Regions from separate parts of the Homo sapiens genome. Here region 1 is linked to region 2. The links come from fine-mapping of genetic effects on gene expression. A gene starts in region 2. The other region holds a variant in brackets. All regions are shown on one strand. Distances are from middle to middle. Region 1 has its middle 76 kb from the start of NBPF12. Region 2 holds the start of LINC00624 (long intergenic non-protein coding RNA 624).

Region 1 (11,288 bases), 660 kb after region 2:
TAATAGGCAAAACTTTTGCTCTTATATAGCTCTGTTACTTCCTCTTTCTTTGTGCTATTACCACACAAATTGCATCTTTATATAAGGCCCACTAATACAGATTTATAGTTATTGCTATATGCAGTTGTCTTTTAAATCAGATAGAAAAAGTTGTAAATAAAAATACATTTATACTGATTTTATATAACCTATGCAGTTACCTTTACTGGTGATCTATATTTCTTCATGTGGATTTGAGTTATCCTTTAGTGTCCTTTCATTTCAGTCTGAAGGATTCCCTTTATTACTTCTTGTAGGCCAGTCTGTTAGTGATGAATTCTTTCAGGTTTTATTTATCTGAGAGTGTCCTGGTCTATCCTTCATTTTTAAATTGTTCCCCAAAATCGGCAGAATAATGGGAACTATTTAGAAATAGTTTTACTAGATATAAAATTCCTTGTTGATAATTTTTTTTTTCAGCACGTTGAATATGTCATCACACTGTCTTCAGGCCTCCGAAGTTTCTAATGAGAAACCAGCCATTAATCCTTCTGCCTTCCAGATGATCTGTCTTTGTATTTCAACAGTTTGGTAATGATGTGTCTAGGTGTGGATTTTTTTGAGTTTATCCTACTCAGAATTCAGCTTTCTGGATATTTAATTGTTTTCATTAAATTTGGGAAGTTTTAGGGTGTTCTTTCTTGAAATATTCTTTCTCTTATTTTCTCTCTTCTCTCCTTCTGAGATTCCCATTACATGTATTTTGCTATGCTTGATAATCTCTTATGGGAATCTGAACTTCTGTTCATTTTTCTTCATTCTTTTTCCTTTTTGTTCTTCATATTGGATAATCTCAATTGCTCCATCTTCAAGTTTGCTGATTTTTTCTTTTTCTTTTCAACAATTTTATCCCATCTGCCACAGCTGATTTTCTTTTACCATAACAAATCTGCTATTGAGCCCCTGTTGTGAAATTTTTCATTTCAGCTATTATGTTTTTCAACTCCAAAATGTATATTTTTATAATTTCTATATCTTTATTGATATTCTCTATTTGGTGAGACATTGTTCTCATACTTTGCTTTAGTTATCTAGACATGGTGTCCTATAGTTCTTTGAACATATTTTAAATAGATGGTTTCAAGTATTTGTCTATTAAGTCCAACATCTGGGCTCCCTCAGAGACAATTTCTATTCATTGCTTTTTTCCCCGTATATGAGTTATATGTTCTTGTATCTTTTCATGGCTCATATTTTTTTAGTCAGAAACTGGAGATTTAAAATAATAAATGTGGCAACTGTGAAAATCAGATCCTCCCTCCCCCAGGGTTGGTTACTGTTGTTACTCTTAGTTTGTTTAGTAACTTTTTCAGTAAAGTCTATATTCTTATTTATGCATGGCCAATAAAGTTTCTGCTCAGTTAGTTTAATGGTCAGCTTATGATTGAACAGAGATTCCCTTAAATGCCTGGAACCAATAAGTCTCCCAGCTTTTGCTGAGGGGCTGTGTGTGTGTGGCAGGACATGCCTTTGACACTCAGGCAGGCAGTTGCCAATTCTGCTTTATCTTTCCTGGGACCCAAAGGTTAGTCAGAGGTAAGAGCTTAGGGCCTTCTCAGGTCTTTCCTGAGCAGTAACAGCCTGGAGGTATACACATCTTACACATGCATGGCTGTCTAGATTCCAGGGAATATGCTGAAGCTTTTCAGAGCCCCCCATGAATATCTTCTTCCCAGTCTCTCCTTTTAAATTTTTAAATGAACTTCTTGTTTGCTCCTAAGGTCAATGCTCCCTCAGTCAGCTGCAGTGTTAAACAATTACAACTGATTGTTTTTGAGCAAGCCTGGAGTCAGGTCAAATAAAAGCTATCCCTATGAGGGGGGGTTTCACTGAACTTCTAGACAGGTCAAATAGTGACAACTCTTTTAGAATGGGGGCTTTTGGGGAGTTGCAATCTGTTCTACCTCCTCCAGGGTCTGATTGATTGCTGACTTTCACTTTGATTGCCAAATTGTTGGTTTTCAAGGCTACTGCAGAGCTGGGATGAGGGAGGAGGGAGAGAATAGGGCAAGTCAAAATACCACAAAGCTCACTGCCTTTATGGGTATTCAGCCATTTTTCTTGAATAAATACTCCGAGAATTGTTGCAAGCCTATTATTAATTTTCAGAGTTCTGAAAAAGTTGATTTCGAAAATTTTTTCCAGTGGTCTCATTGCTATTGAAAAGCAGCATTTTGGATGTCCTTCTCTGCCATTCCTGCTGACATCACCATTCTTTTTTTTTTTTTCATTCAATAATTCATCTTAGAAAACATTGTACATATTCTTTCCCTGCCCCATCTATCACTTTTATTTATTTTAGTGGGTGAATGTATTGCAATATAATTGCTTTTCAATCCACACTTACTCCCCAGGCACCTAACCATTGTTGAAGCCTTTGTACTAGACATTGTGAGGCTGTGTCCAACACAGCTACCCTCTAGGAGCTTCTGGACACATGGAGAAGACAAAGAACACACAGGAGAATTAACTTGCCAAGGCAGCATGCTGAGAGTACTTTTGGAGTTTGGACAATGTTAAATGGACTCACCTTGATTATGAGTTCCAGGTCTGTCAAGACACACTTCTTTAATGGTTGAAAAGACAGGGTGGCATGTACACTCTGTCCTACATCCACAGTGCTGTCGATGGGTGAAAATTCCAAGTACTGCAGCAAGGTTTTGGAGCCACACAGCTGTGCCTGGAAGCTGAAGGTGAACTTTCCAGTGTTGATAAAGTTGAATTCACACTGGACACATTCATTTAACTCCACCTAGGAGACAGAGAACAGAGCAGTGAATGCAAACCATAGTTCCCTTGTCTGGGGTCAGCATTTGTAACATGTTGATGAAAAATATCCTTTGGGAAATAAGGATGGCAGATGATGTTGGTGATTTGACTATCTTTAGCTTAATGGAGTCAGATATTCCAGCAGGAGCTACTAAGTATTGGGGTTCTTTCAATATCTCATGGAGCAAAGTGGCAATTTAGTTCTTAGTCCTTTGTTGGTAGTCAAATATCCTTCCTGTATGTTTAACACAAGCACTCTTTCTTCTCCCCACCATCTCTCCACCCCCCCTGAAAATAAAATAAGAAAAGCATTCACATCATATCTACATACATTCTGGGGATAGAGCTGCTCTTGGAGTGTTTCTGTTTTCCTGGTCTCTCTGGCATTTGAAGCAGAAAGACTCAGCTCATATTCATTTTTACTACTTTCCCCAGTCAGAATGGAAGCTGAGATAGATAGCAAGGTCTTCTTACACCTTTACCTCATAGAAGTTGATGATGTTAGTCTGGTTGGGAGTCAACAGAGTGATGGAGCCTGTCCTGTCCTTGCACTTGATCTCCACATTCATAGTGTAGCCCTCGGCCTTGACATTTAATGTCACAGGGTGGACTTTCTTTTCCACATTGCAGATCAAATTAAAGTTCACATCTCCTTGCTGCTTTGGAGTGAAGAAAATATCAATTGGGAACCTGGTTGGGGAACAAAACAGCAGATTACCTGACTAGGCCAACTTGTCAAAACCTTAAAAAATATGAGCCTACTGAATTAGCAGATTCATTACGAGGAAAAGGAAACTCCAAATTATGATGACATTTTAAGATTTGTGGCTATAGTAACCAAAACAGCGTGGTACTGGCATAAAAACAGACACACAGACTAATGGAAAAAGATAGAGATCCCAGAAATAAAGTCACACACCTACAATCATCTGATCTTTGAAAAAGTCAACAAAAATAAGCAATGAGGAAAGGATTCCCTATTCAATAAATGATGCTGGGATAGCTGGCTAGCCATAAGCCAGAAGAATAAAATAAGACCCTTACTTTTCACCATATACAAATATTAACTCAAGATGGATCAAAGATTTAAATGTAAGACCTCAAACTATACGAAAACTAGAAGAAAACGTAGAAAACACCATTGTAGACATCAGCCTTGGGAAAGAATTTATGAATGAGTCTTCAAAAGCACTTGCAATAAAAACAAAAATCGACAAGTGGGACCCAATCAATCCTGCAAAAAAAAAAAAAAAAAAAAAAAGAGTAAGAAAGGAAAAAAGCTGCTGCATAGCAAAAGAAACTACAAACAGAGAAAAAATGCAACCTACAGAATGGGAGGAATTATTCAGAAACTATGCATCTGACACAGGTCTAATATCCAGAATCTCTAAAGAACTTAAACAATTGAAGAAGCAAAAAACAAGTAACGCCATTAAAAAATGGGCAAAAGACATGAATAGACACTTCTCAAAAGGAAACAGAAAAGTGGCCAACAAACATATAAAGAAATGCTTCACATTACTAATCATCAGAGAAATGCAAGTCAAAACCACAATGAGATAACATCTCACACCAGTCAGAATGGCTATGATTAAGAAATAAAAAACAACAGATCCTGGCGAGGCTGCAGAGAAAAGGGAACACTTATACACTATTGGTGGGAATGTAAACTCGTTCTGCCACTGTGGAAAGCAGTTTGGAGATTTCTCTAAGAACTTAAAACAGAACTATCATTCAACACAGCAATCTCTTTACAAAAAACAAAGCAATCTCATAAAAAACAAAACAAAACAAAACAAAAAAGCCAAAAAACCCAAAGTCATTCTACCAAAAAGACAACATGCACTCTCATGTTCATTGCAGCACTATTCACAATAGCAAAGACATGGAATCAATCTAGGTGCCTATCAACTGTAGACTGGATAAAGAAAGTGTGGTACATATACACCGTAGAATACTACACAGCCACAAAAAGAATGAGGTAATTCTTTGCTGCAACATGGATGCAGCTGGAGGCCATTATCCTAAGCAAATTAATGCAGGAACAGAAAGTGAAATACCTCATGTTCTTATTTATAAGTTGCAGCTAAACATCAGGTACACATGGACGTAAAGATGGCAACAAAAGAAGCTGGGGATTACTAGGGGGAGGGGAGGAAGGGAGGCAAGAGTTGAAAAACTAACGATTGGGTACTAAGCTCAGTACCTGGGTGATGGGACCATGTGTACCCCAAACCTATACAGTAAATCCAGTAGCAAACCTGCATGCATATCCCTTGAAACTAAAATAAAAGTTGAAAAAACCCCACAAAACTTTGACGTAAATCTCATACCTTATAAGTTAATAAAAAAGGGGTTACAGACTGAAATGTAAAGCTACACAACTTACGGAAAAAATAATGGAAGGACATTTTCTGAATCTAGGGCTATTCAGAGATATAGAACAGACACTAAAAGGACAGTCCATAAAAGGACAAATAGATAATTTGGACTTCATCAAGAATAAAAGGTTTTGCTCTGTGAATGACCTTGTTAAGAAGAGCAAAAGACAAGCCACAGACTGGGAGAAGATATTTGCAGATCATGTATCCACCAAAGGAGCACTACCTAAACATGTAAAGAACTCTCAAAAATCAACAATAAAAAACAAACAGGCTGAGCAGGAAACTGGAAAGAGACATGAAGAGACATTTCACTGAGGAGGATCCATAGAAGGAAAACAAGCACATATGTGTTGTATGAAAGGAGAGAAGGTTAGCATTTCCCTTGACAATGACGGAAGAGGCCCTCAGGCCTGACAACACACATACAGAAAATAAGCACATGTAAAGATGTCCGACATTATTAGTCATTAGGAAAATGCTAATTAAAACTACAATGAGATATCCTTACACATCTATCAGAAAAGCTAAAATAAAAAATTGTTGCCGGTTGCAGTGGCTCATTCCTGTAATCCCAGCACTTTGGGAAGCCAAGGCGGGTGGATCACTTGAGGTCAGGAGCTCGAGACCAGCCTGGCCAACATGGTGAAACCCCATCTCTACTAAAAAAAAAAAAAAAAAAAAATTAGCCGGGCATAGTGGTGCGTGCCTGTAGCCCTAGC[C/T]ACTCGGGAGGCTGAGGCAAGAGAATTGCTTGAACCTGGGAGGCGGGGGTTGCAGTGAGCCAAGATCACACCACTGCACTCCAGCCTGGGCAACAGAGCGAGACTCTGTCTAAAAATAGTAATAAAAAAATTGTGACACCACTAAATTTTGGTGATGTTGTGGAGATTCTGGAACATTCAGAGATAACTAGTGGAATGTAAAATGGTTCAGCCAGTCTGGAAAGCATTTTCACAGTTTTTTTTCTTTTTTTTTCTGGAAACATGCCATTATCGTATGTCCATTAATTGCACTCTTGCTCATTTTCCCCAGTGACATGAAGACACAAAAAATCTGTACATGAAAGTTTATAGTAGCTTTATTCATAACAGCCCAAACCAGGAACAATCCAGATGTCCTCCAGTGGGTGAATAGTTCAACTAACTGTGGTGCATCCCTACTATGGAATGGTAGCCAGTCATAAAAAGGAAGAAACTCTCAAAACTACCTGGATGTATGTTGGAGAATTATGAGTGAAAAAAGCCAATCACAAAAGGAATGTATGTGTCTGTGAATACAACATTCCTGAAATGACAAAATGATAGACACAGAGGAAAGTATTGGATTCCAGAGGGTGAGGAGGTGTTGCTTGGGGGAAGGGAAAGGGTGTGGCAACAAAAGGGTCACATGAGGAATCCTGCGGCAAGGGATCTGTTCTGTGTCTTGACTCGTCAATGTCAATACCAGGTTGTGACATTTTACTGAAGCTTTGCAAGATGTCACCCTTGGGAGAAATTTGGTAAACAGTACAGAGTTATCTTTGTCTTATTTCTTCTTCTTTCTTTCTTTCTTTTTTTTTTTTTTTTGAGACAAAGTCTTGCTCTGGAGTTCAGTGAGGTAATCTTGGCTCACTGCAACCTCTGCCTCCCGGGTTCAAGCGATTCTCCTGCCTCAGCCTCCCAAGTAGCTGGGATTACAGGAATGTGCCACTACGCCTGGCTAACGTTTGTAGTTTTAGTAGAGACGGAGTTTCACCATGTTGGCCAGGCTAGTCTCGAACTCCTGACCTCAGGTGATCCACCCGCCTTGACCTCCCAAAGTGCTGGGATTACAGGTGTAAGCCACCATGCCCGGCAGTCTTTCTATTATTTCTTACAACTACATGTAAATTTACAATTACTTCAAATTTTTAAATTTTATTATTAGTTTTTGAGAGAGTCTCACTCCATTGTCCAAGCTGGAGTGCAGTGGTGCAATCTCAGCTCACTGCAACCTCTGCCTCCTGGGTTCAAGTGATTCTCATGCCTCAGCCTCCCAAGTAGCTGGGATTACAGGTGTGTGCCACCACACCCGGCTAATTATTGTATTTATTTATTAATTTTTTTTTTGAGAGGGAGTTTCGCTCTTGTCACCCTGGCCAGAGTGCAGTGGTGCGATCTCAGCTCATTGCAACCTATGTCTCCCAGGTTCAAGCGATTCTGCTGCCTCAGTCTCTCGAGTAGCTGGGATTACAGGCGCCCGCCAACACGCCTGGCTAATTTTGGTATTTTTAGTAGAGACGGGGTTTCACCATGTTGGCCAGGCTGGTCTGGAACTCCTGACCTCAAATGATCTGCCTGCCGCAGCCTTAATTATTGTACTTTTAATAGAGATTGGGTTTTGCCATGTTGGCCAGGCTGGTCTCAAACTCCTGACCTCAAGTGATTCGCCTGCCTCAGCCTCCCAAAGTGCTGGGATTATAGGCATGAGCCACCATGCCTGGCCTGAAAATTAAATGTTTAATTGAAAAAGAGACTTGCCAGGCAAGCCTGAACATTGCACTGTGGATTCACATATACAGTGAATATAGCAAGGAAAAGAATACAAAGAGAAAATATTGAGATAAAGGGCTTAGAATTCTCAATGCTCCATATTCATCAGGAAAACAGATATCAGGGAGTAAGTAGGATGGAGATGGAATTGTTATGATCTAATCTTAGAGTTGAAAGCAATTATATAAATGGGGCACTGTAAGCACTGGCAGGCTTGGGGTCCTGGGCATGTCAGGAGGATGCAAACAAAATGAGACCTTCATTTTTGTTTACCTGGACAGTGGTGGGATCCAGCCTTCCATGGGACATACAAGCAGGCTGTTGCTGAAACCTTCAGAATAGCGGGAGTTGTCCTGGAAGGAAAAATCGAACCCCTGCTCCTCCTTGTTGATGATCTGCACAGTCTCCCTGGCTTCTCTGCCTGAGGAGGAAACACCAGCCCTTAGTGGGGGCCTCCTGACTGCCTGCTGGAGTCTCTCAGCAGACACCGCTTCACAGGCAAGACATTTAGAAGACATTCCCCAACCTCTTCCGCCTTTGTCTACCTCTCTTCTTTCCTTTTCCTCTACAAGTCACCTTCCTTCTTTCGGGAATTCCATGTCTTTCTTCATCAGTTGCCTGCTTCTGCTGAGTGGCTCCTCTGCCCTGGCCACAGCTCTCCTGGGATTCTGGTGACACCGTTTTCTTCCCTTGCTCCTTTAGACCCAAGAATTGTAATGCCTTCCTGAATTTGTTAATGGGGGCTTCACTCTCCTTGGTTGACCCCCTTAACTGCCCATGTATCTGTAAATAATTCTTGCATCGAATTCTTTGAAAATAGACCTTTGGTATTGGCATGAGTTTCCTGCCCAGGGCTCTGACTAATACATTTTCTCTCACTATCATCTTACGCTTTCCTCTTGGCTATTAGACCATTCATTTTTCCACATAAACTTTAGAATCATTTTATCCAGTTCTCTCCCCTTCCAATTCTTTTGGGATTTGGTTGACAGATTTAGCAAATAATTTTTTGGTATAAATATGTCCCGAGCAATATTTGGACTTACTCAGAATTATTAATTGCTATTTGAAATTAAAATTTATGCATCCTGTATTTTATCTGGCAACCCTAGTTGGGATTCTAATTGGAACTTGATTAAATTTGCATTTAATTTTAGGAGAACTAACAAATGATCAGATCTTGTTTGGGGGATTTTAATCAGATTTGATAGTTTTCTTCATGTAGGTCTTTTTTGTGCATGTCTTATTACATTTATCCTTAGCTATTTTATAGGTTTTGCCAGTACCAAGTGGATGTTTTCTTTGGTTTTCTGTTTCTAGGTGCTAGTGCTAAAAAAGAAGACACTATTTTTGCACATTTGTCTTGCATCTGCCCACCTTACCACATTATTCTGTTGAGTCTAGTAGTTTGTTTTGCTTTTTCTCTAGAGTCTCTTGTGGTTTTATGTGTACAAAATCATCAGTAAAAGCAAAACAAGATGACTTTATCCCTTTTTCCCCAATGTTTATGCAAATTATTTAATTTTCTTGTTTTGTCATATTTGCTAAAGTCTCTAAGCAAGTGTTCAATAATAAGGGTGATAATGAACACCCTTACCTAATTCCTCATTTTAATTGAAGCAGTTTTAGTCATTTATTGCAGGATCATATCTGCCTCTTGATTTTGGTTAACCTTTTTTTCCATCAATGTCCATTTTGCTATTAGAGTTTTTGTTGGGAATGTCTGCTAAATTTTGGCAATGCCTTTTCAGTGTATATTAACATGATCACATGGTTGTTCTTCTTTAATCTATTGATGTAATGATTATATTCAAACGTACCACTGTTGAATTCCTGGATTAAACTCTGTCTCACTGTTGTTATTCTTATGCTACATTGCTTATTTGTTCAAAATCTTAATAAATGCCATAATTCCCCCTCCCACCTAATTATATGTATCGGTAAAAATACACATCCAGCAGTTAACACTGCTTTCCTTTGGAGTGGAAAGAGAAAGATGAGACAGGATGAATGTGGAGAGATTAAACTTTTTCTTATGCAACACCACATTGGTGGATTTACTATAAGAATATTATTTTACAAATACAAATCTAACATATTATTAAAACATACTCTGGCTTTAGTTGTATTTTATACACACAGCAGAGATGTCACAACCATGGGAAAGATACATGGGGTTATAAGGGACATGACAATTACTTCGTTTCACCTTCCCACTGCCTCCTGGCCTTCCTTATTCTCCCTACCCTGCTGTCCTCTTCTCTAAAGCACTTATTACCATCTGACATGGTGTATAGTTTCCTTATGTTTCTTTTGGTAGCCTGTTTCTTATTTCTAGAATGTAAGCATCAGGAAGGTACGGACTTTGGGCTTTATCCATTAGCGTAATCCCAGCCCATAGAAAAGTACCGAGGGCATTCTACAGACTCAGTGATATTTGTTGAACCAAATAAATGCACGAAAGGATGAGAGAGAAATCTGACCACTGTGGCACAGACCAAGAAGCATACAGATACCCCCCATAATCTGGGGGCAAATGCAGGAAGGATGGGCCAACTTGAGGCTCTAGAAATAAACAGTCAGCCCATGCCTTAAAGGAATCTGCCAAGTAGGATCTTTAACAAGGCTCCTAAATTTCCTTAAGCTATTAATTGTAGGTTTAAAAGATACTTGGTGGAAATTAGATTGAGCAGTAAATATTTTGTGGCTTTTTAAAAACTGATTAAGACCCTCTGATATGCTTCTGGAAGGGACCAGGAGAGGTTTCTTATGCAAGGCTGCTCCCAGAGCTCTTGATGACCTTGCCCAGATCATGCCAACTCTAAATACATACCATCAGGACAGCCTTACCAATGAGGAGAGAGCTGAAGTTGAGGTGTGACTTGTTCAGAGAGATGAGAGGTTCGGTAGTTTTGCCTACCAGCAGGAAAGGGACTGTGATGTTGTGCTCGGGAATTAGGAAGGTCCATGATGACTCAGTGATGCCCAGATGGAAAGGTGTGAACTGGAACACGATCTAAGAAGACAATTTGGAACAGAGTGGTAAAAGACACTTCTGTATGCTTACTCCACATGTCCCTGGAGACTTGTCAGCACGAGGGTCATGAGAGTTGATGTTACCAGGCTATTGCTACCTTTCTATAGTCCATGTAAGGGCATGTAGGTGTGGCTGTACCAGAAACGTCAATGTCTATCTGACCTGCCCACATGTCCTCCTAAGGGAGTCTCCCCCATCCACAGCTTCTGCTGGCTAAGCTGTCGTGTTTTGTGCCATGTCTTTGGATGGCATGGCTGTGCCATAGCTGACTGGACCAAAGAGTTGGTACCCATTCCAAGGAAAGACAATCCCCATACTTGTCAATAGCTGGGCACACAGCCAAAGACAATATGATTAGCCGGGCCAGCCAGATTTCTCCCTCAGAAGTTTGAAATTAGAAAATGAGTGGCCAGGCCAGCTGGCAGTGGAGCTGATGGTGAAAGGTACCATGCAGGTGAGCTGGGCCACGGCATGCCATAACCAACTAGCTAAGTGATATTACAAAGTAACTGAAGAATAAATCAATCAATCAAGAGTGAAGAAACTGGTCAG
Region 2 (11,288 bases):
AACCAGCCTGGCCAACATGGTGAAACTCCGTCTCTATTAAAAATACAAAAATTAGCCAGGCATGGTGGCACATGCCTGTAGTCCCAGCTACTAGGGAGCCTGAGGCACGAGAATCGCTTGAACCCAGGAGGTGGAGGTTGCAGTGAGCCGAGATCACACCACTGCACTCCAGCCTAGAGGGAGGTGGCTGAGCAAGACTATGTCTCAAAGAGAGAGAGAGAGAGAGAGAGCGAGAGAGAGAGAGGGAGAGAGATTGAGATTTGAATAGTTCAGAAGTATATAGAAAAAAACATGAAATTCTCACCATTTTTTCTGGATTTAGTCAATTAACCCTTATAATAATAGTGAACTGACATATAGTCAGGCACTATTTTATGCATTTCACATACATTAACTTGTTTTAAGCCCCACAAAAGGTTAACTTGTTTTAACCCCACAAAAAGGTTAACTTGTTTTAACCTTTTGAGGTAGGTGTTCTGTTATCAACCCCATTTCACAGACAAGGAAACTGAGGCACAGAGAGGCATAGAAAGATTCACTAACCTGCCAAAGTGGCAGCGATGGAAGCCACTGAGCCCAGATTCAAATCCAGGGAGTCTGGCTCCAGCATCCATGTTCCTTATCATGATTTTACTTCCTTTGGAGTGGTAATAAGGTTATTCTAATTTTATAGATTTATTTATTCATTCAGCAAATATGTATTGCCAGGTGCAATACGAGGCTCTAGGGCTCTTGTAGAGAATAAGGCAGACTTCACGGAGCTCCTATTCTAGATAAGGAAACACTGGCCCTGGAAGTTAAGTATTTGTGGAGCAAGGGTTGTTTAGCCTATAAACAGCTCTGGGACCCTTGGGTCTGACTCTCAGGCTAATGGTCTTAATCCTAGGCCGTACTGCTTCCCTGAAGAGAGTCCCATATTACAGGTCCGGGAAGACTTTGTAAGGATTCCTGCAGGTGGGCAGGCTGTGGTGACCTGAAGCGCGCCACAGCAATGACCAATGTCATTCTCTCACCTTTCCTTCTCTGCTGTCCCCTCTCCCTTCTTCTCCTTATCACTTTCATGTGCCTTCAAGTGTACAAGGGTAGAATCTGACGGGGGCACTCAGGGCCAGAGAGATTGCTGCGAAGAAAAAGCCCACCCCCACCGCTCTCTCCAAGCATTGCATTGCCTCAGCCATCTTTAAACTACCTGAACTTTTAAAAATGTTGCCAGAAAAAAACTATTTAACAATCCTTTCTTCACGCTCTCCAATTATCTTTCTCCTCTTACCTCCCCACAAAATTCAAGGCCTTCTACAATCCTCGTAAGAGGAAAGTTCTGTCCTGCCCCAGTCTCTCATATCATGTCCTCCTCTGGACTGAGTGGGCACCCTTGTACTTCCTGCCTTTTCGAGAAGGTAAGTTGCCCTGCTTCTCTAAGGGTGCAGCCTAGAGCTGTTTTTCAAACTCATATCCCTTTGGTTGCTTATCTTATTTTACTTTTTTTTTTTTTTTTTTTTGAGACAGGATCTTGCTCTGTCACTCAGGCTGTAATGCAACTTGTAGTTCACTGTAACCATGAATTTCTGGCCTCAAGCAATCCTCCTGCTTCAAGTGACCCTCCCACTTCAGCCTCTCAGAGTGCTGGGATTACAGGCATGGGCCACCATGCCCTGCCCTTTGGTTGCTTTAGATCCTCTCCAAGTTCTTGTTATCACACTTCACTTGTGAGGCATAAAACTCAGCATGATCTATGTTCGGAAAGAGTCAGGACTATTACTAAGATCAGGCCAACTTCTGAGCAGGGCTTCTGGTGAATACACTCTGGGGCTGGGTGGGCTGGTGGTTCTGGGAAGATCCCAGCCCAGTGCTGAGGTCTGAGAACTTAAAGAGGTGGTAGGGATGGGAGTCCCACAAAGGATGTTTCAGGGAGGCTGAGGGTCAGCTTCCTCCCTCCCTGCAGTCCTGGGCCTGGGAATGCAAGAACCCTTTTCAAACTTTCACAGATGTCTGAAGGAACTGGGGAAGGAGAGGAGGGCTTGGCTATGTCACTCTCAGTGAAATGTTCCCTACCACATGGGTGTGAGGCTTCCCATCACTCAGGCTTCAGGGAGCTCTCTAAAGACCCCTGGTGGCTCTAAGAGAAGTCCCCATAGGATTGATCAAATGCGGGAGCCAGTTGTGGGCTTCGGAGGTGTAGTAAAGAGAATCTGCACATTCTCCCTGTGCCATATTGCTCGGCTTTCTCCTATCTCTGGAACAGCTACTTTTCAGGGATATAGGGAAAAAGCAACAAGCCCATTTTTAACTTCATTCCATGTTCCCTCCCAAAAAAGGGCTTGTACAGGTGGTTGAATTGGGGGAGTTACGCTAAGAAGTAGGATTGGGACATTTGGGGTCTGTGAAGGCTGAAAGAAGGAAGAAGGAGAAGCCAATCCATGGTTACTTTATCGGATCGTCACTGTGGGCAACCAGAGCTCAATCCTACTTAGAAGGCTATGAAGCCCCTGTAGAATGCATCTCAGACTTGGCAGCCTGCAGGGTGGAAGAGGGAAGTATTAATCTACCAGCGTCTGCTCCCATTGATCCAGTATTGTCCTTTGGGTGATAACTTCCCCATACTCTCAGGTTTGCATGTGTATCAGAATGGCCAAGCAGGTTCTTGCAGGCAGATGTGGCAAAGAAACCGGGAACAGAAGGTGAACACTGCTCTCTGCATCCAAAGACACGGCGCGGCCAGGTTTCACTTGCTCACAGCTGGTTGCTACAGCAATGGCTGAAACAATAAGGTGGGCCCAAAGGAGGTATGTGGGGCACTGGATTCAGGGGATGAATCCTCTTTCCACCTCCCTCCACCTTCAGATTCAGATCCTGCCAATTCGTCAAAGACTAACTCAGTCCCCTCCTGAGAAGTTCTTCTAAAGGAATCTGACCATAGCCAACTTTTCCCTTTAAACTCTCAGAGCAGTCACTACATAGAACTTATTTTTGCTTGATCTGTATAATATACTACGATCATTTCACTCCTTGGATAATAACTTATGGTCAGAGATTTCATGAACCCCAACCCCAGGAGCTTGTACAGCAGTGGATGCAAAACAGGCCTGTCAGTGTTCATTGCATTGAATGGTATAACAATTATAGATAATAAGAGCTCTGCACTTTTTAAGCATTTGCTTCCTTGTCAGCACCATAAGCTAAGTTATAGGAATGGAAGAAGAGAACCTGAGTGAAGGTTTTATTTGGGGCTCTGGATTTTAAATTTAACCTCCAGAACCATGACACTTTCCTGCTCCTCAAGGTCTTCAAGTTATCTCTGCAGCCTTCTGTTTGAAGACATTGGTGGTGCTGGACTGGCCTTTCCAGCTGGTCATTTCTTCCCAGCCCTTTTTCTCACTTCAGCCTGGCACACCCCCTCCTCATGATGCCTTCCTGGGTCAGATCCACTCAAGTCACTGAATTCAACTCCACATGTATCAACCCAGAGCCTTATGTGGCTAAGTCCAATGATGCACTATCCCTTCTCCTGGGCAAAAATAAAAGCAATAAGATTTTCTTCCCAATGTCCCTCTAGAATTAGTAATGAACTTGCCCTGCTCTATCCAAATCCTTTTGCCATTCTCTGATGTTGACTCATAGGCAAAATGAGTGATTAGGGCAGTGGCCTGTATCAGCGGAACTAAGCTTACTGCCATTTTGAGACAAAGGTAACTGGTCTTTTGGGATTTGAACCAATGACCTGGACCTCATTGGCACAATGCTTTAGCTGACACAGACTAGCCCATCATCTACTTTTTGTTATCTATTCTAAAGAAGGGGTGCACTGGACATGAATAATAGAAGCCGTAGGTAATTCAACTCAACGAAAAGCTAATGAGGGCATATGGTAAGCCAGGCCTTGTGTTACACAGCAGGGTACTCTGAAAAGACCTTCATATTTGGCATCGGAGATCCTGGGTTTGAATCACGGCTCTACCATTTGTTGGCTACGTGATCTTAGGTGAGTCACTTGACTGCTAGGTGTCTCAGTTTTCTCATGGGTGGGATTTTATTGAGGATCAGATGAGATACAATATGTGAAAGCACTTCTAAACAGTTGAGTGTGAGATATTGTTAGTTTTTATGTAAAGAACAGGACCCGATCTCTACCTTTAAGGCTTTTACCTTTTGTCTGAGTCTGATAGGATTGGATTTCTTCCAGAGAGAAAATTTCCTTGAGGAATAAGCTCAGGGCTCCAGTCCACTCGAGCAGAAGGGAACCTTCTTGTGGGAAGAAGTCGTCTTCCCTCCATGTGGTCTAACTTCCCAATCAGGGAGGAGGCTGCTGGTGTCCATCCATCTGAGCAGGTGGCAGCTGACTGCCATAGGTAAGGGCACACAGCCTGGAATATGCATTCATGGATTACAGAGAATTCACAGATCTCTCTGGGTAGACCCCCCAGGTAGGATATATGTAGATATTTTGGAGCAAATTGTTCTAGACAAACGGTTTAAAAATCAAATTTTCCAGGCTGGGCGTGGTGGCTCATGCCTGTAATCCCAGCACTTTGGGAGGCCAAGGTGAGAGGATCACCTGAGGTTGGGAGTTCGAGACCAGCCTGACCAACAAGAAGAAACCCTGTCTCTCCTAAAAATACAAAGTTAGCCGGGCATGGTGGTGCATGCCTGTAATCCCAGCTACTGGGGAGGCTGAGGCAGGAGAATTGTTTGAACCCGGGAGGCTGAGGTTGCAGTGAGCTGAGATGACCCATTGCACTCCAGCCTGGGCAACAAGAGCGAAACTCCGTCTCAAAAAAAAAAAACTAAAAAAAAAAATACGGCCGGGCGTGGTGGCTCACGCCTGTAATCCCAGCACTTTGGGAGGCTGAGGCAGGCAGATCACAAGGTCAGGAGATTGAGACCATCCTGGCTAACATGGTGAAACCCCATCTCTACAAAAAATACAAAAAAAGTTAGCTGGGCGTGGTGGCGGTCGCCTGTAGTCCCAGCTACTCGGGAGGCTGTGGCAGGAGAATGGCATGAACCTGGGAGGCAGAGCTTGCAGTGAGCCGAGATCGCGCCACTGCACTCCAGTCTGGGCGACAGAGCAAGACTCCATCAAAAAAAAAAGAAAAAAAATCAAATTTTCTCCTAATTGACAGAAACCTTCTCCCCATAAGTCCCACTCAATTTGAGAAGATGTGTACATTTTGACCGGTAACCAGTCAGACCTTAAACAACTAATTAAGTTGTAGAAATATTAATGGCCGTGCTCATGTTTGTCTAGAACTTAATGAAGCACATGAGGTGAGAAACTAGAACTAAACGAAGCACATGAGGTGAGAAACTAGAGTTACCCAAGTTTGGAAATCTTATAAAGTGGTTAGTGTTCAGGAAAGGTGGAAGAAAATTGAGAGGCTTTAAAAAAAATCAAGATTGGGAATATTAGAGAATGTAATCCACTAGAAAAATCATTCAGCTGGGAATAAATGAGAAATAGATGAATGAAAAAATTCTCTCATTTCTTTCTTTGGCATGTATTGAGTATGATGTGGTAGGACATGTTCTAGCAGCTGGGGTATGTAGTAGACCCCTGTTGTCTGGTGGAGCACGCATCCCCCAGTTACTAAGGAGTCACAGCTGCACCCTTCTCTGGAGCCCTGCAGCAGGGAAGCACTCCCCCCAGCTATGCCTGGGAGATTATGCTGCCTTCATCCCACACACACACACTCTAGGAGCAGCTTGCAGCCAATGCCCAGTTGTTGGGGATGGGGGTAAAAGCACAGTCCCCTTGTCTCAAGTGGGCTGACTCTGTGATGTTATTCAAGCTCCAAAGTGCCCCCTGGAATCAGGCTGAGGCTAGACCCACAGCTTGACTGATCTCCCCAGCCCTATCCAGTTTCCCTCACTCATATGAATTTCATCCTCAATAAATCACTTGAGTAAGAAGAATTCTCACCTCAGGGTCTTCTTCTAAGGAACCCAAGTTAAGACAATGGGCAATGCTGAATAAATCAGAAGTAGTCTCCCTCTGGGAACTTGTACTGGGGGAGGATACAGACAAATACACAAGCATTTATAATGTAGAGTCACAATGGTAGCTTCAGAAGATTCATGGTGCTCTGGGAACAGGAATGGTCACAGAGTGTTTCTTTAGAGTTGAACATTTCTGAGCTGAGAACTGAAGTATAACTAGGAGCTGGCTGGGTAAAGAGGTGGGGGAAATAAAGAATTTCTCAAGCAGAGGAAAAAGAAGATATGGAGGACGAATGGAAGATACTGCAATATATGCCCCCCAAATCATAAACGGTTCAGTATGACTGAAGCCAAGGGTGACAGTAGCAAGAAAAGACACCAGATACAGATTATGAAGGGCATAGTGAGATATTAACACATTTCTATTGTATCCCTGGGCAAAGGAAAAATAATGAAGAATTTTAAGTGGAGGACACATGATAAGGAGAGGTGAAGCCAGCTGGACTTCCTGTGTCGAGTGGGGGACTTGGAGAAATTTTCTGTCTAGCTAGAAGATTGTAAACACACCAATCAGCACTCTGTAAAAATGGACCAATCAGCACTCTGTAAAATGGACCAATCAGCTCTCTGTAAAATGGACCAATCATCACTCTGTAAAATGGACCAATCAGCTCTCTGTAAAATGGACCAATCAGCAGGATGTGGGCGGGGCAAATAAGGGTATAAAAGCTGGCCACGCGGAGCACCCAGCCAGCTGCTGCAACCCGCTGCCCTCTGGTGTCCTGCTGTGGGAGCTTTGTTCTTTCACTCTCGTAATAAGTCTTGCTGCTGCTCACTCTTTGGGTCCGCACTGTCTCTGTGAGCTGTAACACTCACCGCGAGGTTCTGTGCCTTCGTTCTTTAAGTCAGGGAGACCACGAACCCACCGGGAGGAACAAACAACTGTGATGCGCCATCTTTAAGAGCTGTAACATTCACCGCCGGGGTCTGCGGCTTCATTCCTGGAGTGAGTGAGACCACGAACCCACCAGAAGGAAGAAACTCTGGACCCATCTGAACAGCTGAAGGAACAAACTCCGGACACACCATCTTTAAGAACTGTAACACTCACCGGGAGTCTCCGTGGCTTCATTCTTGAAGACAGCGAGACCAAGAACCCACCAGAAGGAATGAATTCCGCACACAGTAAGATTTCTATTTTTAAAAAATCTCTGGGCTGTAGAACGGGAAAAAAAAGACTTGGAAGGCAAAGCTGATAGTAGGGATACAACACCAGTTAATATTTCAGTTGTTGTATTATAGGTAAGGGCTAGAGTATTGGCATTGGAGAGACGGACTAAATTCTCAGCTCCAACCCTTACCAGCTTGGGTAAGTTATTTATTCTCTTTAAATTTCAATTTCCTTAATGGTAAAATGGGGCTACAGTAATAACCAGAGCAGATACGCACATTCAAGGATCTAATGTATGAAAAGGGTTTTATTATTTTTGCAACAGTTGGCACCCTGGAAGCACCATCAAAATGATCTGTTATTATCCATGTGATCTTAACTTGGGCAACAGTAGTGGAAATGGAAAGACAGATCGCTGGTGCTGTGGCACACACCTGTAGCTCCAGCTTTTCAGGAGGCTGAGATGGGGATCACTTAAGTCTAGCTTGGGCAACATAGCAAGACTCCATCTCTAAAAAAAGTGTAGATGGATTAAAAAATGGTAGGAGGTGGAATTAAAGGGTTGGATGTGGAAGTGGAAATGAAAGAAAGTGAGGTGTCAAGGGTTTCTGGCTTGGGCAGCAGCAGGTAGGTTGCAGCATATTTTCTTGAGATAGGACTTTAGGAGGAGGTAAATATTCTGAATGGAAGCTGTAGAACTGGATGTGCTGCTTTTGAAGAGCCTATGAGATACCCAAAGTGGAATTGTCTGGAAAGTAGTTGTACAAGAGAGGCTGAAGTTGAGGAGAGAGATCTGGGTAGAACATACATAGGTAAGGTAGAGAGAAGAACTCAGACAGTGTGTACTGAGAATAGAGAAGAGGGCGAGGCACCGCACTGGACCTGGGAGACAAAGGTGAGAAGACAAGACACCCACTCTCAGGAAACTCAGTCTGGTTGGGGAAGCAGATAATTAAACAGATAATTAGAATACAGTGGAATACACCCCATAGGTTGTTTTGGACCAAACCTGTGGGGTGGATCCCAGCAGTTGAAGGAACTGAATGAAGATAGAACAAGGACTCTAAAGGTCAGAGCTAAAATTGGAAATACTCAACAGGGTGGGGATGGGGCAAGGAAGGAAAGGGTGGAACAACTTGGAAAAGATTTTGAATGCTCTTAAACCAGAGACAAAGTAATTGACTGGAACATCGCAGCATTAGGAAGAATGTTAGTGCTCTTGGATTCCATGCTTCTCAGACCGTGCTATCTTGGAATCCTCACAGTTCTGAGGGGCCCCTATAATTAGAGGCCACCATAGTGGAGGAGTTGAAACCAAGCAGACACCCTACTAAACCAGAGTTGTTGTCTTGTTTTGCACATTAAAACTGTGTACAAGCTTTGTTTTGAAAAAAAAAGTTGTTATGCCTGAAAAAGAATTGAAAACTACCAACTTAAGTAAATTAATGTACAGATAAAGAATAAGAGGCCCAGAGAAGCTAAGTCACATGCTTAAAATCAAATCATACAGCTCATTAGGGATCAAGTTGGGCCTAGAACCTAAATTTTTTGTTCTCAGGCTGGTGTTCTTTCTTGCTATGTCTGAGACCTCGTACTTCTAATTTGCCTAGTCCATATTCATTTGTATCTTCAGATTTTTCTGAACTGTAGTAAAAGAGATGTGTATTTCAAACATCATGAGAACAAGGCGTGGGAGGGATCTTACAGAGCAGCAGTTAAAATCATTGCTGGCATGTGGTCTTTCACAATAAAATTCTCCCCTTCCTTTTGATTCCTCTAGGCAACAGCACAAAGTTAAACCAGGAAGTCCCTCTGCCTTGCTAGGGATCCAGGTTTGCCTTCCTGTTGAGGTATCCCATTTCATTACAGTTGACCTAAGTTTGAACAAACACTGCCACCTGATGCATGAAAGCTCTACTGTGACCTACGTTAAAAGGTAATTTAAAAAAAAACGAAACATAGAATCATGACTCATACAGATTGAACATGAACATGTGTTAGAGATTTTATTTAACTCAATCTATGAGAGAACTAGGCAGATATTATAACTGGATCAAAAGAGAATACAAAGAACATGTATAGATCAAGAATATTGAATGCACAAAAAAAGGGCAAAACTGACTTCTTCCACAGAGGGAGCGGGAATCAATTGAACCTCTACCAGAAGGGACAAAACTTGAATGTTTACAGAGAATAATTATTTTGCAATGCTATCAGCTAGCTACAGTTTACAAAGTTGTGAAATAGCTCCCATAGAATCCAAATCAGATAAAAGATAGCAGAAGGGTGTGTGATGGACAACACATAGTTTTCCAAATATGTGCAGACATTTTCCTTACAACTGTTAGAAAAGCAGAAGTATCTTTTACAATAAAACATGGGCATCCCAGGTTCCTTTTTCTGTTTTATATACATGCAAAAATATACAAGTGTGTATGTGCATATGTATTTGCATATGCTTTTTAAAATAAAAATTTCACAAAAAAGAACTTAATCCTGTATTCATGCAATGTACCCTGATACTTTTTATTCTATTCTTTGTTAATGCTGGTATCCACACAAATTAATTTCGTGACTCCTTAATGGGTTACTACCCACGAATGGGTCAAGGATTCACAGTTTGTAAACGGGACTAGATCAGTGCTCCTCAAACTGTCTGTTGTGAAGCACCAGTTTTTAAATATTTGACAGTTTTCAGTCCTTCACATACTGACTGATGCTTTTGTAAAACACAATAAAAATAAATTATTAGAAAAATGAAATGAAAAAACTCCCATAGACTTATGAAATGCAAGCTCAACTTTTTATTATTAGATTTAACAGACATAAAATTGGATGCTGGGGCAAGGTCAAATTCCTATTTAAAGATTTCCAAATGCATATTTTGTTTCTATGCTTTGTTTCTGCACACTGGAACAGTGGTGGATTCCACTGGTCCTTGGACCACACTTTGAGTAGCACTGACTAAGTGACCAGCTCTGACAGTATGGTGATTTTTTGTTTTCCAGGAGCTGACACTCCCTCAGGCTACCTTAGTCAGTGGGGGCTTACTGCAGCATACCTGTGGCGATGAGAGAGAGAGGCACATCACAGGAGCATCTGGCACCAGTGGCATCCTGGTGAGTGAAATGTCATATGGACACTGGAAGGATCTAACACTGAGGTGGCCCTTCATCTCTGTGCTGTTCACCACGAGCATGCCTGGGCTGCTCTTCTGTGTTCTTCCTGATGTTTCTCATGATACTGATTGATTTTTGGAATTTCCCAGTTCGTATTCCCAAGAGAACCCATTGCCCTATTTAATCATCACTTCTGTTGCTGCAGAACTTTGTGCAGTACTGGGATTGCTTGCTGCCTTAATGTCAGGAGTTGGCCAGGCATCCAGTCAAAGGGCAGAGTAGGCTCTTGTGGTATCGAAATGGCCACCCTCCTTCAAGGAGCAGCAGGTCCTCTTCCTCAGCACAGAAGGCAATGGTGAGGAAGAGGCTAATTTTCCTTTGAAGAGGATTTTGAGAAAAGGTTGGCCCATCTAAAATATTTTACAATTCTCTGTTCCCAAACCCTGAATAATCCTTGGAGGTCACTCACTGTGCAGGAGGCTGAAGAAGGGTAACACTGTCAAAACTGCAGACACAGACCCTTCTGGCTCCACCTCTATCCTACCCTAGAGCTAGGTTAAAGAGAGACTCTGGAGAACTTACTCATACCCAGTGGGGTACTTCTACATTTCTCTAAAGTCAGGAGACACTTTCCCTTTGTGAATATTTATACTTCTGAAGACATTTGCAAATCTTTAAACTCTTGGTTAAACAATAGTTTATACTGTCCCCCTATAATTCAGAAAAGCATAACTTCAAAAGAATGATGACAAACTTGGCCGGGTGTGGTGGCTGATGCCTGTAATCCCAGCACTTTGGGAGGCCGAGGCGGGCGGATCACCTGAGGTCAGGAGTTTGAGATTAGCCTACCCAACATGGCGAAACCCCGTCTCTACTAAACATATAAAAAATTAGCCAGGCATGGTGGCGGGCACCTGTAATCCCAGCTACTGGGGAGGCTGTGGCAGGAGAATCACTTGAACCTGGGAGGTGGAGCTTGCAGTTAGCCGAGATAACGCCACTGCACTCCAGCCTGGGCGACAAGAGTGAAACTCCGTCTCAAAAAAAAAAAAAAAAAGACAAAC

Evidence for each region. PIP is the estimated chance that this variant, and not a neighbour inherited with it, causes the effect. A credible set is the group of variants that fine-mapping cannot tell apart.
Region 1: its variant is the best candidate, but not a certain one, in a credible set for the expression of LINC00624 in aorta (GTEx, PIP 0.84).

Annotation. Positions count from the first base shown.
Region 1 is chr1:146,857,097-146,868,384 of GRCh38, reverse strand. It overlaps the pseudogene LOC124900456. Among named protein-coding and RNA genes, the nearest start is that of NBPF12, 76 kb to the left of the region's middle. The variant C/T (reference allele first, on the strand shown) is at 5,912.
Region 2 is chr1:147,513,274-147,524,561 of GRCh38, reverse strand. It overlaps LINC00624 (long intergenic non-protein coding RNA 624), which reads left to right and starts at 6,687. Exons shown (of 4, transcript NR_038423.2): 1 at 6,687-7,119; 2 at 8,886-9,041; 3 at 10,114-10,224. RefSeq lists a silencer at 8,290-8,490.